Homo sapiens: one gene and its partners. The protein of the gene in region 1 purifies or fractionates together with the protein of each later gene. This does not show direct contact. Each region holds a gene or a part of one and is shown in the gene's direction. Other genes may lie near its edges.

Region 1 (3,500 bases):
CAGAGGTTGCAGTGAGCTGAGATCATACCACTGCACTCCAGCCTGAACGACAAAGTGAGACTCCGTCTCAAAAAAAAAAAAAAAAACACAAAAAACAAAAAATTAGCCGGGTGTGGTGGCGTGCACCTGTAATCCCAGCTACTCAGGAGGCTGAGGCATGAGAATTGCTTGAACCTGGGAGGAGGAGGTTGCAGTAAGCTGAGATCACACCACTGCACTCCAGCCTGGGTGACAGAGTGAGACTCTGCCTCAAAAACAACAACAACAAACTTGTTCCACTTGTTTGTGGAAGGAACGAACCAGATGGCTGGTCTCAGTAATAGCCAGCACCTGCCATGAAGAGCGCACAGCCTGGTTCAGAGACGACACATGAGCCTGCAAGTGCAGTGCTGGGTGTTTCTCACCTTTCCCTCTGCCTTTGAGTAGATGATTGTGCCTGCAGAGGCATTTTCCCTCTTTTGATTAGTCTCCTAGGTCAGCTGTAACAAATTAACACAAACTTGGTGGCTTGAAACAACAGAAATGTATTCTCTCACTGCTTTAGGCACCAGAAATCCAAAATTAGTTTCACTGTGCAGAAATCGAGGTGCGGATAGGACTGTACCTCCTGTGGCTCTTGGGGAGAATCTGTTCTTGCCTTGCCTCTTCCGGTTCTGGTGGCTGCTGGCATTCCTTGGCTGTAGCTGCCTCACTGCAGGCTCTGCCTCCTTGGTCACGTGGTCTTCTCCTCTTTTATATGCAAATCTCCCTCTGCCTCCCTCTAAACAGGTACTTGCGCATTTGCATTTAGGGCCCACCTGGGAAATTCAGGATACCCTCCCCATCTCGACATCCTTAGTTTAACCTCATCTGCAAAGTCCATTTTGCTACATAATTAGGATTTAGGGTATTTTGGGAGGCCATTATTTAGCCCACCACACCCTTTTCCTTCAGAATTTATTTTGTTATACAAGCCCTACTTTATTTATTTATTTATTTATTGAGACAGAGTCTCGCTCTGTCACCTGGGCTGGAGTGCAGTGGCGCGATCTCGGCTCACTGCAAGCTCTGCCTCCTGGGTTCACGCCATTCTCCTGCCTCAGCCTCCCGAGTAGCTGGGACTACAGGCATCCGACACCATGCCTGGCTAATTTTTTGTATTTTTAGTGGAGATGGGGTTTCACCGTGTTAGCCAGGATGGTCTCGATCTCCTGACCGCCTGATCCGCCCGCCTTGGCCTCCCAAAGTGCTGGGATTACAGGCGTGAGCCACCGTGCCCGGCCTACAAGCACTACTTTAATGAGATTTGCGGAATTTAAAAAACTTAAACTTCCTACTCATAGTTTCACTACACTACCAGGCCAACATTTCATTTTTGTCTTTCCCTTTTGTCCCTGAATATGTAAGCAAAGTCATATATAATCCCCCCACCCAGGGGAACCACTGTTAACTTTTTAGGTATCTCTTTCTAGCCTTTTCTTTTTTTTTTTTTTGAGACAGGGTCTCACTCTGTCACACCAGTGCAGTGGTGTGATCTCGGCTCACTGCAACTTCTGCCTCCTGGGCTCAAGAGATCCTTCCACTTTAGCCTCCTGAGTTAGCTGAGACTACAGGCGTGCACCACTGTGCCCAGCTAATTTTTGTATTTTTAGTAGAGATGGGGCTTCACCGTGTTGGCCACGCTAGTCTCGAACTCGTGGCCTCAAGTGATCTGCCCGCCTTGGCCTCCCAAAGTGCTAGGATTACAGGCGTGAGCCACTGCACCTAGCTGAGCCATTCTTTTATGATTTAGAAAACTTTCTCCAACAAAAACCAGCTCATGTCATACATGTGATTTTTGTATTCTCCCTTATCACCTCATAGAATAGAACTCGTTTTCTAAGTCAATGATTGAATGTACATCTACCAGATTATTTTACATGGCTGTATAGTATTTTATCATATGGATGTACATTTTCATTTTATTCAGGTTAAAGCTTCAAAGGTAGTTTACTTAAGAGAGTTGGGAAGAACCAAGGAAGTGGCCCCTAAATGATAGCCCTGCTTCATATTTATTGGACACTTTCTGTGTGCCAGGCATCCTGCCTTACCTGATTTGAACCTTACCACAGCCCTCTGTAGGGACTGTAATTAACCCATTCTACAAATGGGGAAGCTGAGTCTTGACTTCCCTGGATTACACAGCTGGGAAAAGGTGGAACCAAGGGCAAGCCCGAATTGCCTGACTCCAAACCTCTGTACCTACTGCCTCTGCAGAGCAGGACAGCTCTAATCTGAATGAGCCTGAAAGTCCCCTGGAGGCTGGACCCCATTCCCAGAGTCTCTGAGGCACTGGGACCCCACAATGTGCATTTCTGACAAATTCCTGGTGATGCTAATGCTGCTGGCCCGAGGGCCACACTTGGAGACTTCTGCATATGGCAATCTGCTACATTAGGTATAGCTCTTTTTTAGCACGATTCCTCTACAGGGAACCTCCCTGTCTGTCTCCTGCTTACCCATGAGGCTGTCCCCTTGCCTCCACCTTTTTAATTAATTAATTTGTTTTTATTTTGTTTTTGGCAACAGAGTCTTGCTCTCTCACCCAGTTTGGAATGCAGTGGTGCGATCATGACTCACTGCAGCCTTGACTTCTGGGCTGAAACAATACTCCCACCTCAGCCTCCCGAGTAGCTGGGACCACAAGCATCTACCACCATACTCAGCTAGTTTTAAAAATTTTTTTGTAGAGACAGGGTCTCACTTTATTGCCCAGGCTGGTCTCAAACTCCTGGGCTGAAGCGATCCTCCTGTCCTGGCCTCTCAAAGTGTTGGGATTATAAGCGTGAACCACCGTGCCTGGCCCCTGTCCCCACCTTGAGTAAATCAAGCATGTCTTGAAGTCTAGACCCAAGAGAATGAATCAGTGAGGTCCCAACAGGGGCTCCCAAGTTAAAGATGAGGCAGCCTTAGCCTATGAACTTGATTCTTTTGTTGCATGTTGAGTTCTGTGTGTATTTGTAACTCTGAGCCGTGAGCGTAGTCTCCTTTAGAAGTTCTGCCCTTAGCTCAGTAGGCTGCTCCGTATTTGGGAAGAGTTATGGTGGACAGCTGGACCAGAGAGTAAAGCCAGGGCTGTGCTGTCCTCTGGCCAGTGTGGTGGGGAAGGAAACTCCGACGGATCCCTATCAGGGCCACTTGTCCTGGCCATGTACCTCATGTGGGGTGGCTCTTGTTGCCTGCTCCATTGGTTAGATTTTATGCATAGCAAACCACCCAAAACTTAGTGACTTCTTTAGGATGACAGCCATTTGTTTAGCTCATGATTCTGTGGGTCAGCATTTTGGAGTGGGCTCCATTTCTTCAGGTCTTGCGGTTGGGTCTTGCAGATGTGCCTGCCCATGGTGGGCAGGTCAGCTGGGGGCTGGTTGCTGTAGGATGGCCTCAGCTGGGGCGCCCTGTCTCTGTTCTGTGTATTCTCTCATCCTCTAGCAGGCAAGCCTGGCCATGTGCTCATGGTGGCTGGCAAAGTCCTAAAAAAA
Region 2 (3,500 bases), on another chromosome or scaffold:
AATGGCTATGTTATCACAGAGACAAATTTGTCACAAGCCTTTTGGCTGGCTTCCTCTAGTGGAAGGTCAGGTAATTCCTTCTCTTTTACTTGTGTAGGTAACCCTCTTGTAGATAAAGACTTTTTCATATTTACCCTTGTGTTTATAATAATAATATGGTGTAATAATAATAATTATACTTACTTTACTTTTTTCTGAGTCAGGAGTTTACTCTATTGCCCAGGCGGAGTGCAGTGACACAGTCATGGCTCACTGCAGCATGGACCTCCTGAGCTCAAGCAATTCTTCTACCTCAGTCTCCTGAGTAGCTGGGACTGTAGGCATGCACCACCACACCTGGCTAATTTTTTGTATTTTTTGTGGGGACAGGGTTTCGCCATGTTGCCCAGGTTGGTCTCAAACTTCTGGGCTCAAGTGATTTTCCTGCCTCGGCCTCCCAAAGTGTTGAGATTACAGGCATGAGCCACCACACGCAGCCAATAATTTTTTTTTTTTTTTTTTTTTTTTGAGATGGAGTCTCGCTTTGTCGCCCAGGCTGTAGTGCAGTGGCGCAATCTCGGCTCACTGCAAGCTCCGCCTCCTGGGTTCAAGCCATTCTCCTGCCTCAGCCTCCTGAGTAGCTGGGACTACAGGTGCCCGCCACTACGCCCGGGCGTAATTTTTTTTTGTATTTTTTTAGTAGAGATGGCATTCCACCGCATTAGCCAGGATGGTCTTGATCTCCTGACCTTGTGATCCGCCCGCCTCAGCCTCCCAAAGTGCTGGGATTACAGGCATGAGCCACCACGCCTGGCCATATTTTTAAAGTAGAGATGAGATCTTGCAATGTTGGCCAGGCTGGTCTTGAACTCCTGGCCTCAAGTGATCCTCCCGCCTTGTCCTCCCAAAGTTCTGGGATGACAGTCATGAGCCATCACGCCCAGCTGATAATTATTATTTATACTATAATATTATGTAATATATCATTTCATAATAAGAAGTCTTATTTATGGACTTCTTCCTGCCAGGTACTTTATGTGTATTATCTCATTTACCCCTTAAAGCTTGAGGGAACACACACCCAAACTTCTGTGCCTTCCACCTGACAACCCTTCAGACATTTGTGTTTAGAGTTACAGTAATGACATCAGACACATGTACACACCAAGGTATTCACTCCTGTACACATCAGATTTGAGGGTTCAGCCTCTGCTTTATATGTGTACACACATGTGCCACTGTTCAGCCAGCTTCTGCTGGGGTTAAATGGCTACAGGGAGTCAGACTTCTCCAGACCATTTCCCAATGACTGTGTTCCCATTGGCCCTGCTGCTGCCTATCTCTGCCTGGCAAAATCAGCCTGATTGCTTGGCTTCTTGGGCCCCTGATTTGTGGTGTATCATGGTGTAACTCTGGGTTGTGAGTTAGCTTCCCATCACTCACTCACTAGAGCTGGAACTGCTGAGGGCAGGTTCACCTGGAGGGCTGAAATGCTTCTCTCAGGTACATGGCACAGCCTGCAGAGGGGCTCCTGTGTCTGTAGAAGGTGTGCATGTGGCATGCATCCTGTCTGGAAATCTGCCAGATTACCTGGCTAGCTGCAGTTTCGGGAAGCTATCAGTGAGACTATTGGCCTCTTAGGCTTGCTGCATTTCCCAAAGAGGCAGCCACCTGTGAGGAGTGTGCCTGTGTGTGTACTTCTGTTATCATACTCGCTTACTTGTGGGCAGCATGTCTCAGATAAACTGCAGCCACTCCTCTGAACTGTGGGCACAGATGTGGTGACCAGCCCCTCCGAAGCCTGACTTCATGACCGTGGGGCACCATGGGGGAAGTTTTCATTTTGTTTCAGCCCCTTTATTCTCATTCTGTGGAGGTTACACCTCCAGGACGTGTTTAGGGAGACCTCTGGGGGAGGTAATCTGTCCTGAGTCCATTGGGTAGTCAGTGAGAAGTGCAGTTCTTGAGTGTCACCTGAAGCTCTTCCTTTCTTCTAGCATGGTTTCATCTTACCTCGTGCATCATGGGTATTGTGCCACAGCCACGGCTTTTGCTCGAATGACTGAAACCCCGATTCAGGAAGAACAGGCGTCCATAAAGAACAGACAAAGTAAGGTTTATTCTACTTTCCCCTTTCCCTTCCTCACCTGTCCCTAACTCTGCTCTCTGGCTCATGTCAACCCTGGTTAACCTGTCAGGAGTCCATTCAGCTCTGGTCCTCATGACCAGCTTGCAGCTCGAGGCCATGTTCCTGTCCCACCTTCAAGATGGCACTGCCCAGATGGACAGTTGGCAGGATGGAGACGTCTCAGGGCAGCCTCCCTAATGCACATTCTGAAGGCTGGGCGCAGGCCAGGCCCTGGCATGGCTGGTTCCATTCCTCCATTTCCTCCCTGCTTGTTTCCTTCCCCCTGAATCCTGGATTCCTCTCAACCTCCTGTTCATGGTCTTCCAGGAAGGCTGTTTGCCTGCCTTAGTAGTTCTGCTTATTCCTAGCCAGAGAGGGGACTGAAGTGGTCAGATAGGGCAAAGCCAGTGCTCAATGGCTGCTGTGGGGGCACTACCCTCTGCTCCCCACCACTGGTCCTGCCCTTTGCAGACAACCTAAAGTCCTCCCTTGGCCAGAGCTCTCCCAGTGTTGATGCTGGCCTGGATGCTGTGTGTCTGGAGGCTCTTTCACGGAAGGAGGGGTGTTGGAAAAGAGGAAAAGGAGCCCAGTGAGGAGCTAGAAGGAGAAAAGGAGAATGAGGGCAAGTGGGTGTGGATATGCGTGTCTGTGAGTGCCTGCCTACCCCTCTCCAAGCCTGCTGTCTCTTCTGTATGTGCACGTGTCTGTCTCCCAGAGAAGCTGTGCTCAGCCAGACAGACGGAAAGGGATCCCAGACTTGGGATCTATGAATGAGAGCCTCAGACTCTGAAGTTGCTCCCAGCGAGATGCACCAGGCCCCACGGCAAGAGCGAAAAGGCAGCAGCAAGATGCTGATGGCGTGAGAGGTGTCAACATCAGAGGTGCCAGCATGAGGAGGATGGCCTCCTCTCCCAGCAGGGGGCATGCTGCAGCCCCTGAAGACCACCAGCCAGAGCCCTGGTCAGAAACCAGTGTGATTCCATTGCCATTCCCCTGTGAGGCCTGGAAGGAGAGGAGTCTGTCTGAAGAGGAGCCACTCAGGCCGCCAAGCTGCCTGGGTGCCCATCCCCAGATCATGTTGCCCCAGCTGGGGCCCTACCCTGCCCCCAGGTCCCTGGCACCATGTGCCCCGCAGGAGCAGACCTCCACATTTACCCTCCTGCCTTTGGGCTGAGAGTCTCCCCTCCATCTTCCCCATATTCTTGAGGACTCTCTGACACTTGGCAGAAACCAGGATCTGTTGGGCTGGGCAGTCAGGTTCTTTCTCCAGCCTCCTCTCCTGTGAGCATTTCAAGCTGGCGAGGCACTCTGAGCCGGACCCTACCCTGAGGCTGGCAGCATCCCAGGTGTGTGGCTGTGGGAGAGGCCTGTAGCCCTCGCTCACTGCTGTGTT
Region 3 (3,500 bases), on another chromosome or scaffold:
CCTTTAGATAATTGCTTTGTATGGGAAAATAAAAAGCCTTAATCTATGTTAATCTCTCTATAGTTAGAGGCCATGTTCAAGTGTATTGTGGAAGTTTCCTCCCCTTATAGAGGAATTAGACATCATATTAGAATGTGTTTGTGAGCTCCTAAGTTAGGTTAAATAATTAGTATTGCCCACATTACCACCTGTTACATACAACTTTATTTTCTGACAGCACAATCAGATAAGTTCACAGCCAAGCCATTGGATTCCAACTCAGGAGAAAGAAATGACCTCAATCTTGATCGCTCTTGTGGGGTTCCAGAAGAATCTGCTTCATCTGAAAAAGCCAAGGAACCAGAAACTTCAGATCAGACTAGCACTGAGAGTGCTACCAATGAAAATAACACCAATCCTGAGCCTCAGTTCCAAACAGAAGCCACTGGGCCTTCAGCTCATGAAGAAACATCCACCAGGGACTCTGCTCTTCAGGACACAGATGACAGTGATGATGACCCAGTCCTGATCCCAGGTGCAAGGTATCGAGCAGGACCTGGTGATAGGTTGGTAAATTTTTAATTAACATGAACTGTAAAAAATGTATTTCACAAGGATTTGTTTGAAGTCATTGAAGGGAATCTCTCCATTTTTGACAGTTGCTTCCTCTAAGAGTGTCTCATTCATATAAACTTAAAGAAACTTTACAGTTTACTGTAAATGATTTTACGTATTATATTCTTTGAGCACTGTGCATTAATAGGGAAATAAAAAGTCTTCATTCTCCATATCTCTAGCACTGAGGCTTGCTTCTGAATTTACAGATCAAGAGAAAAGAATGTTAAGAATGACCCACAGGTTATTTATGAAGTCAAGGTTATACTTAGCTCTCAGATTATCTTGTAGATATCCAGGCCTTTATCAGTGTTGTTTTGGTTTTAATGTTAATTTTTTCTGCTTTTCTATTGACCCTGGATTAAGGTAGTGTGTTAGTAGTTCTGTTTTTGGGAACACTGTTTTTCTTTGATTTCTACTAAACTTAGTGACTGAATTTAGAAAATGAAAAATTATACCAAATAAATACCATAGCAGCAATAAAAAATTGAATTGCCAACATGTTTTTATAGTTTTTCTATATTTTATGTGATCACAAGGATATATTTTCTTTTGTGGGAGTTAAAATAAATTTTTAAAGTATACTGCATTTCATACTCATGGAAAACTATTTCTATTATTAGTGCTATCATATCTTATTGTAAGTTCTGTCCTCTTTCAGAGAACCTAGTTTTAATCTTAAAATCCTAGTTTACAAAGGAGTGAGATTCTATTTGAAATATTTCACATTTTATATGCTCAATATATTGCTGTTTATAAGATACCCTAAAGTATCTGTCAACTGAAAAATATAATGAAAGATTAATTTACCACTCATAGTCAAGAGCATGATGATGGGTTTGAATACTGGTTTCACCACTTACCAGCAGTGTTTTTTCATTCAAATTACTTAATGACTCTTAAAGATTCAGTTTCTTATCTATAAAATAGGGTTATGATTATCTAAAATTATTGTAAGAATTTTAAAAAAATCTATCAGTCAATCATGATGTGACCTGGCTCATGTTAATAGCACTAATTAAATGATAGCTGTATTAAACAATCAAGATAGTCTATGAGGCCACTTTAATTTTTAAAAGAATTACAGTAAGAATGACTCTAGGGATAAAGACTGAAAGAAGACAGGCAAAAATCCTGAAGAGGATAGCTTGCAGCTCAGGGGAACTGCCTTTTCTTAACTATGAAAGGGTATGTTTCTTTCTTTAGTCATATTTGGGAAATGTTTACTTTGCCATGGCACTTTTTTTGTAGATATGAAGCAAGAATTTCCCATGTTTATACTTAGAGATTAATCAAACATCTTCTCTTTACCTGTACACAGTAATCTTGAGCATTCTTAGTATATATTTTAGGCAAGTAAGACTTAGTTCTATTTCTTTCCATACCCAGAGGGAGTTCCTTAGAATGTCATTACCACTTAATTTATGCAGATGAGGTTAGCAAGCTTAGCACAATTTGAAAATCAAACTGATAATTTCCAAAATCAAACTGATAATTTCCAAAACCCAGGGTTGAGAGCTAGATTCTATAATTAAGCTTGTACATTTATGGCCTTCCATTTATATAAATGAGCTAATGTCTTATTTTTCTACATTTAAGTAGTAGAACATGATACGGAGGTCATAATTGAAAATTAAATTTAAGTGCCCAGTTTCTAGTAATGTTTTTAATGGATATTAGACACTTTGAGAAAGTCATAACTATTTAGCAGCTTCTATGCAGGCTAATTATAACACTTAATACCAAGCCTGCTTTATAGCTGAGGAAACTTAGGTGCTAAGCAAAGGGTTTTGTATATTCTAGAGCTAAGGAGTTTTGTTTTTTGAAACACAGTACTATAACATTAATGAGAAAGGAGGATTTGAGGGAGGGTGGGTCCTAGAGAATACAGAAACTGTAATCTTTCTATAGATCTTTATCATCTTCATAATACTTAGATGATTTATATGTTTTAGGGATTCTTTTAGCATTTAGATCTGTCACAAAGTTGGTTCCCAATAGCCTCATTGACCCAAGGAAACCCAGATGCTGAACTAGACTAGCAGAATCTTTTAGAAGAGAGATAATCAGTGACAACAAACAGCCTGGAACTGATCCCACTTCATGCATATACTCTTGAATTCATACTTTCATGGTTAAATCCAGATTTGAAACCACTCTGGGATCACATTTAGTTCCCTGCTTTTTAAAAATTAAATATTATTTAATATTCTGTACACTCATTTGAGTATTTAGCCTATGTTGGTCCTACATGGTATTTTGTTTTGTAAGATATAGTAGTAAACTTCCTGAAGAGTAACAGAAGAACGATAAAATTCTTATCCTTCAAGAAACTTAATTATTTATGAATAAGAGAGAATACCGAAGCCATTTATAGGAACATAGAAAACATTTAATATATGAAAGTAAATACAATTATATATATATGTGTGTGTGTGTATATATATATAAAAGATGTGTATACTGAGGTAATTAGAAAGTGATTAGAGTAACAATTACATTAATTTTCCTTTGAGATTTGCATTATTTTCTAGCTCTTTACCAAAAATTTGTAAATGGTGTAAATATTTCCTCTGACTTTTATCTAAATCGGTTATTATAATTCTTAACTTTTTTGGCACCATCCTGATTTAATCTTGAACAACTGTAAAAAAGTATACTTTTAATATTTCTGCACCTTTCTAAGGGCTCTTCATCATTGACACTCCTGCCAGTTTATCTTACTTCTCAATTTAGCTGACTTTTATTCTAAAGAGAGAAAGTTTAAGAGATTTTGCTTCTTAAGAACATGAAAAGAATCACTTACCAGCTTGTAATTAGTCCTATGATTTTGGAGAGTTTCTGTTTCCCAAGAGACTAAGGGTTGTGAAGCTCTGTTGTAACAATCATACCATTTGGTTCCTAGA
Region 4 (3,500 bases), on another chromosome or scaffold:
AGGCTGAGGTTAGGGCTAGGCTGGCTCCAGGGGCACCAGGCATGTCATCAGGACTGATCTTGTTCTCTTCTGTCAACTGTTGGCTTTATTTTCAGGGTAGTTTTCTTCACATGGGGTAGAGATGACCAATGGAGCTCAAAAGACAGGAACATGGCCATTTTGTTGGAGATACTCCAGGGAGTACCTTTATTATTCCGTTATGGATCCTTTCCCTGAATCAGTAACTGGGACCAGGGAGTGAGGTCTTCTGGCCACCTTGAGCTGTGCTCACCCCCTCAGGAGGTATATGGCCTTATAATACACTGTTCATCAGGTAAAGAGACAGTTCTAGAAAGGAACACTTAAACCCAGACAGAGTAATATATGTCTATTACAGTGCAACAGCTACATGTTATATCAGTAACATTCTCTGAGATGTTTTCCTGACTAGCCTCGCCTTCTCAGCTTTTGCCTGGCCTCCTAACTATAATGCTCATATAATTCAAGTAGTGAGTTGTTAGTATGACTTAATCTATAGACTAGAGAATACAACTTGGTTCATGTTCCTCTAGAACTTTTTTGAAATTACTTTAATGCTTGACATAGTAAAGTAATTTTCCTAAAGTTATTTTATTTCTAAAGTAGTTTCTAACTCTGGATAATAACATTGGTAAGGAGAAACTTGCCAACACTTCTGTGATACTGTCATACTAGAGCTAATAGAGAAGTTTCTGTTGTTTTCATGTCTTAGTCTCTTAGTCTTTAGGATGATGAAAATGGTGTTTTAGCAAACTGTTCACTTGGAATATTAAAACTAACTTATTTTTATTTAGGGCCCTGCTTCTTCATCTGTAAGGCTTCCAAAATCTTTAAAAATGATCCAAAAATGCAGTTTAGGGAGAAAATTGTGGAGGGCCCTGGCTCTGAGCTATGTGTACTTGGAGACCCGTGGTACTTCCAGGAGATGATGCTCTCTAACTGGACGTTTCCTTGAAAGCTCTGAGAGTAGCAGACACTTCTGGCCATTCTCTTTAGATTAGATGTTAACTCAACCCTTCAGAGAACAAAGACTAGACTGTCTGGCAGGACTCGAGGATTTTGAGAAATACAGTATGCTTTCACCTTATATGGGTGTGGTGATTGTGTGGCTGAGCTCAAAATGGTTGTTTGGGAATGTCGCTTGGAGAGGCCATAGGCTTATATTACCAAGTCTTTCTCCACTTAAGATGGAGGCCTGGATGGTGATTTCGTCTGTTATGGGGGCACAATGTAGTGTCAGGCTGTGTGTTATTTATGATGAGTTTGTTGTATCTGCAGAATTCATATAGGTTTAATTCATCTTATTGATACATGAAGACATTTGGGAGGAGATGAGGAGAGAATCTTTTAAAAGAAACATTATTCATGGCCCTGGTCCTCCAGGAACTTGGAGGCTAATTGAGAAGATGAATCTGTATTTGTGGAATAGTACCTAAAATTTTGACCCTGGGCCCAGGAGGTCTGGGTTTGAATCCTTGCACTGCCAATTTACTGGTTCTACAATCTTTTTTTTTTTTTTTGGAGACAGAGTCTCACTCTGTCACCTAGGCTGGAGTGCAGTGGTGTGTGATCTCAGCTCACTGCAACCTCTGCCTCCAGGGTTCAAGCGATTCTTGTGCTCCCAAGTAGCTGGGATTACAGGTGTGCACAATGCATGGCTAATTTTTGTATTTTTAGTAGTGACGGAGTTTCACTATGTTGGCTAGGCGGATCTTGAACTCCTGGGCTCAAGTAATCCACCCGTCTCAGCCTCCCAAAGTGCTGGGATTACAGGCATGAGCCACCACGCCCGGCCTGATCCTACAATCTTGCTTAGCCAGTTTTTCCTTCAGTAAACTGACATCACAGAGTTATGAGAGTGAAATAAATAATAGACGTGAACTGGCTTTGAAATTTGTAAAACAGGGTAGACGTGTTATTTATAAAGTCTGTGCCTTAAGTGGTGTTAAGCTTTTTTTTTTTTGAGGCTGAGTCTCGCTCTGTCACCCAGGCTGGAGTGCAGTGGCATGATCTTGGCTCACTGCAACCTCTGCCTCCCAAGTTCAAGCGATTCCCCTGCCTCAGCCCCCGAGTAGCTGCGATTACAGGCGCATGCCACCAGGCCTGACTATTTTTTTTTTGTATTTTAGTAGAGACGAGATTTTACCATGTTGGCCAGGATGGTCTCGATCTCTTGACCTCGTAATCTGCCCGCCTTGGCCTCCCAAAGTGCTAGGATTATAGGCGTGAGCCACCACGCCGGGCCCAAGCACTGTTTAATTGAGACATTTTGGGTAATATTTAGGTGTCTTTATTACTGGTTTATGTTAAATACCACTCTGTGTCCAGTGGTCTGCTTAACATTGTAAAGAATGCTTAAAAGGTATAAGAAAGAGTCTTTAAGGAACTTAGAAGTTAGTTGGAGAGACCAGACTCATATTTGAAAGGGGGAAAAAACAAGACCACGGCACACAGTGTATAACAGTGCTTCTGGTGAGTACAGACACCAGTGAAGAGAGAGAGCCCTTAGAAAGAACTGCATGGGAGTAGATGGGCATTATTTCAACTGAACTTTAGATCACCTCATCAGTAGTTATTAATCACCATTTATAGGTAGAACTAAGCAAAATCTTCTAGGAGTTACAAAGAACAAGCATTTTCATCCTCTAAGAACTTTGTGTCCAGTTAGGGAGATGAGACTGGCATTTTTTAACAAACACACAAACAAAAGCAGTGCCCTGTAATGCACGGTTATGTATCTAGGCTAGATGCTACATGAGTGGTGTGGACAAAAAGGGGTGGGATTTGAGACAAGGAGAGACTCTTTTTACCTATGGGAAGTTTTAGTAGCAGAGATTGAATATGGATAGCAGAAAGAGCAGATGGAGTGCCTGGAGGGGAGGATGGCAAGAACAAAGGTGTAGAGGAGTGAGAGGTGAAGGACCAGATTGCAGGGGAAAGGCGATAAGAGCATTAAAATTAAATTGGAATCAGGTTTTGTAAAGCCATGGATACCAGGGAAAGTAGTAGACTGGGAAGATATTGAATTACTTTGGGGTGGGGTGGGGACATTTTGAATAGGGAGGGGACAGGGACACGATCAGAGACCAGTTGTCAGCAGTATTTAGGTTGGTTTGGAGTTGGGAGTGAGGTTTGACTAGAGGCAAGAACGTTAGCTAAGGCTAAGTGTCAACCTAGATTTGATGAAATAGGGACCTGTCTTTGGGTACTGGTGGTAGAAATTTAAAGGGACACATGAAAGGGATTTCTGAGGGAAGGAATGACCAGGAGTTGGTGCACAGATGGAGTCTGGCAGAGTAGGAGAAAAGGGCAGGAAAAACCAAAGGTTAATCCAAGGTTTTAAACATGAATGATGGGTAGATCATTATGGAACCAGGTAGAAAATAGGAAGTTTAGGAGAGGGGAAGGTGGAAATCTGAGTTTGATTTTTTTTTGTTTTTGTTTTTGTTTTTTTGGGGGGTGGGGGAGGGGGGGTCTCATTC

The links.
Region 2: the proteins of HAPLN3 (region 1) and RANBP10 purify together in Homo sapiens (co-immunoprecipitation; one large-scale study listed by IntAct). This does not show direct contact.
Region 3: the proteins of HAPLN3 (region 1) and DCAF6 purify together in Homo sapiens (co-immunoprecipitation; one large-scale study listed by IntAct). This does not show direct contact.
Region 4: the proteins of HAPLN3 (region 1) and RMND5A purify together in Homo sapiens (co-immunoprecipitation; one large-scale study listed by IntAct). This does not show direct contact.

The regions. Positions count from the first base shown.
Region 1 is NC_000015.10:88,882,045-88,885,544, reverse strand, and holds part of HAPLN3 (hyaluronan and proteoglycan link protein 3 isoform 2 precursor), read left to right. Parts: intron 1-3,500. UniProt on the Homo sapiens protein: May function in hyaluronic acid binding.
Region 2 is NC_000016.10:67,730,061-67,733,560, reverse strand, and holds part of RANBP10 (ran-binding protein 10), read left to right. Parts: intron 1-1,976; coding exon 1,977-2,089; intron 2,090-3,500. UniProt on the Homo sapiens protein: May act as an adapter protein to couple membrane receptors to intracellular signaling pathways.
Region 3 is NC_000001.11:168,044,683-168,048,182, forward strand, and holds part of DCAF6 (DDB1- and CUL4-associated factor 6), read left to right. Parts: intron 1-217; coding exon 218-545; intron 546-3,500. UniProt on the Homo sapiens protein: Ligand-dependent coactivator of nuclear receptors. Enhance transcriptional activity of the nuclear receptors NR3C1 and AR. May function as a substrate receptor for CUL4-DDB1 E3 ubiquitin-protein ligase complex.
Region 4 is NC_000002.12:86,726,791-86,730,290, forward strand, and holds part of RMND5A (E3 ubiquitin-protein transferase RMND5A), read left to right. Parts: intron 1-3,500.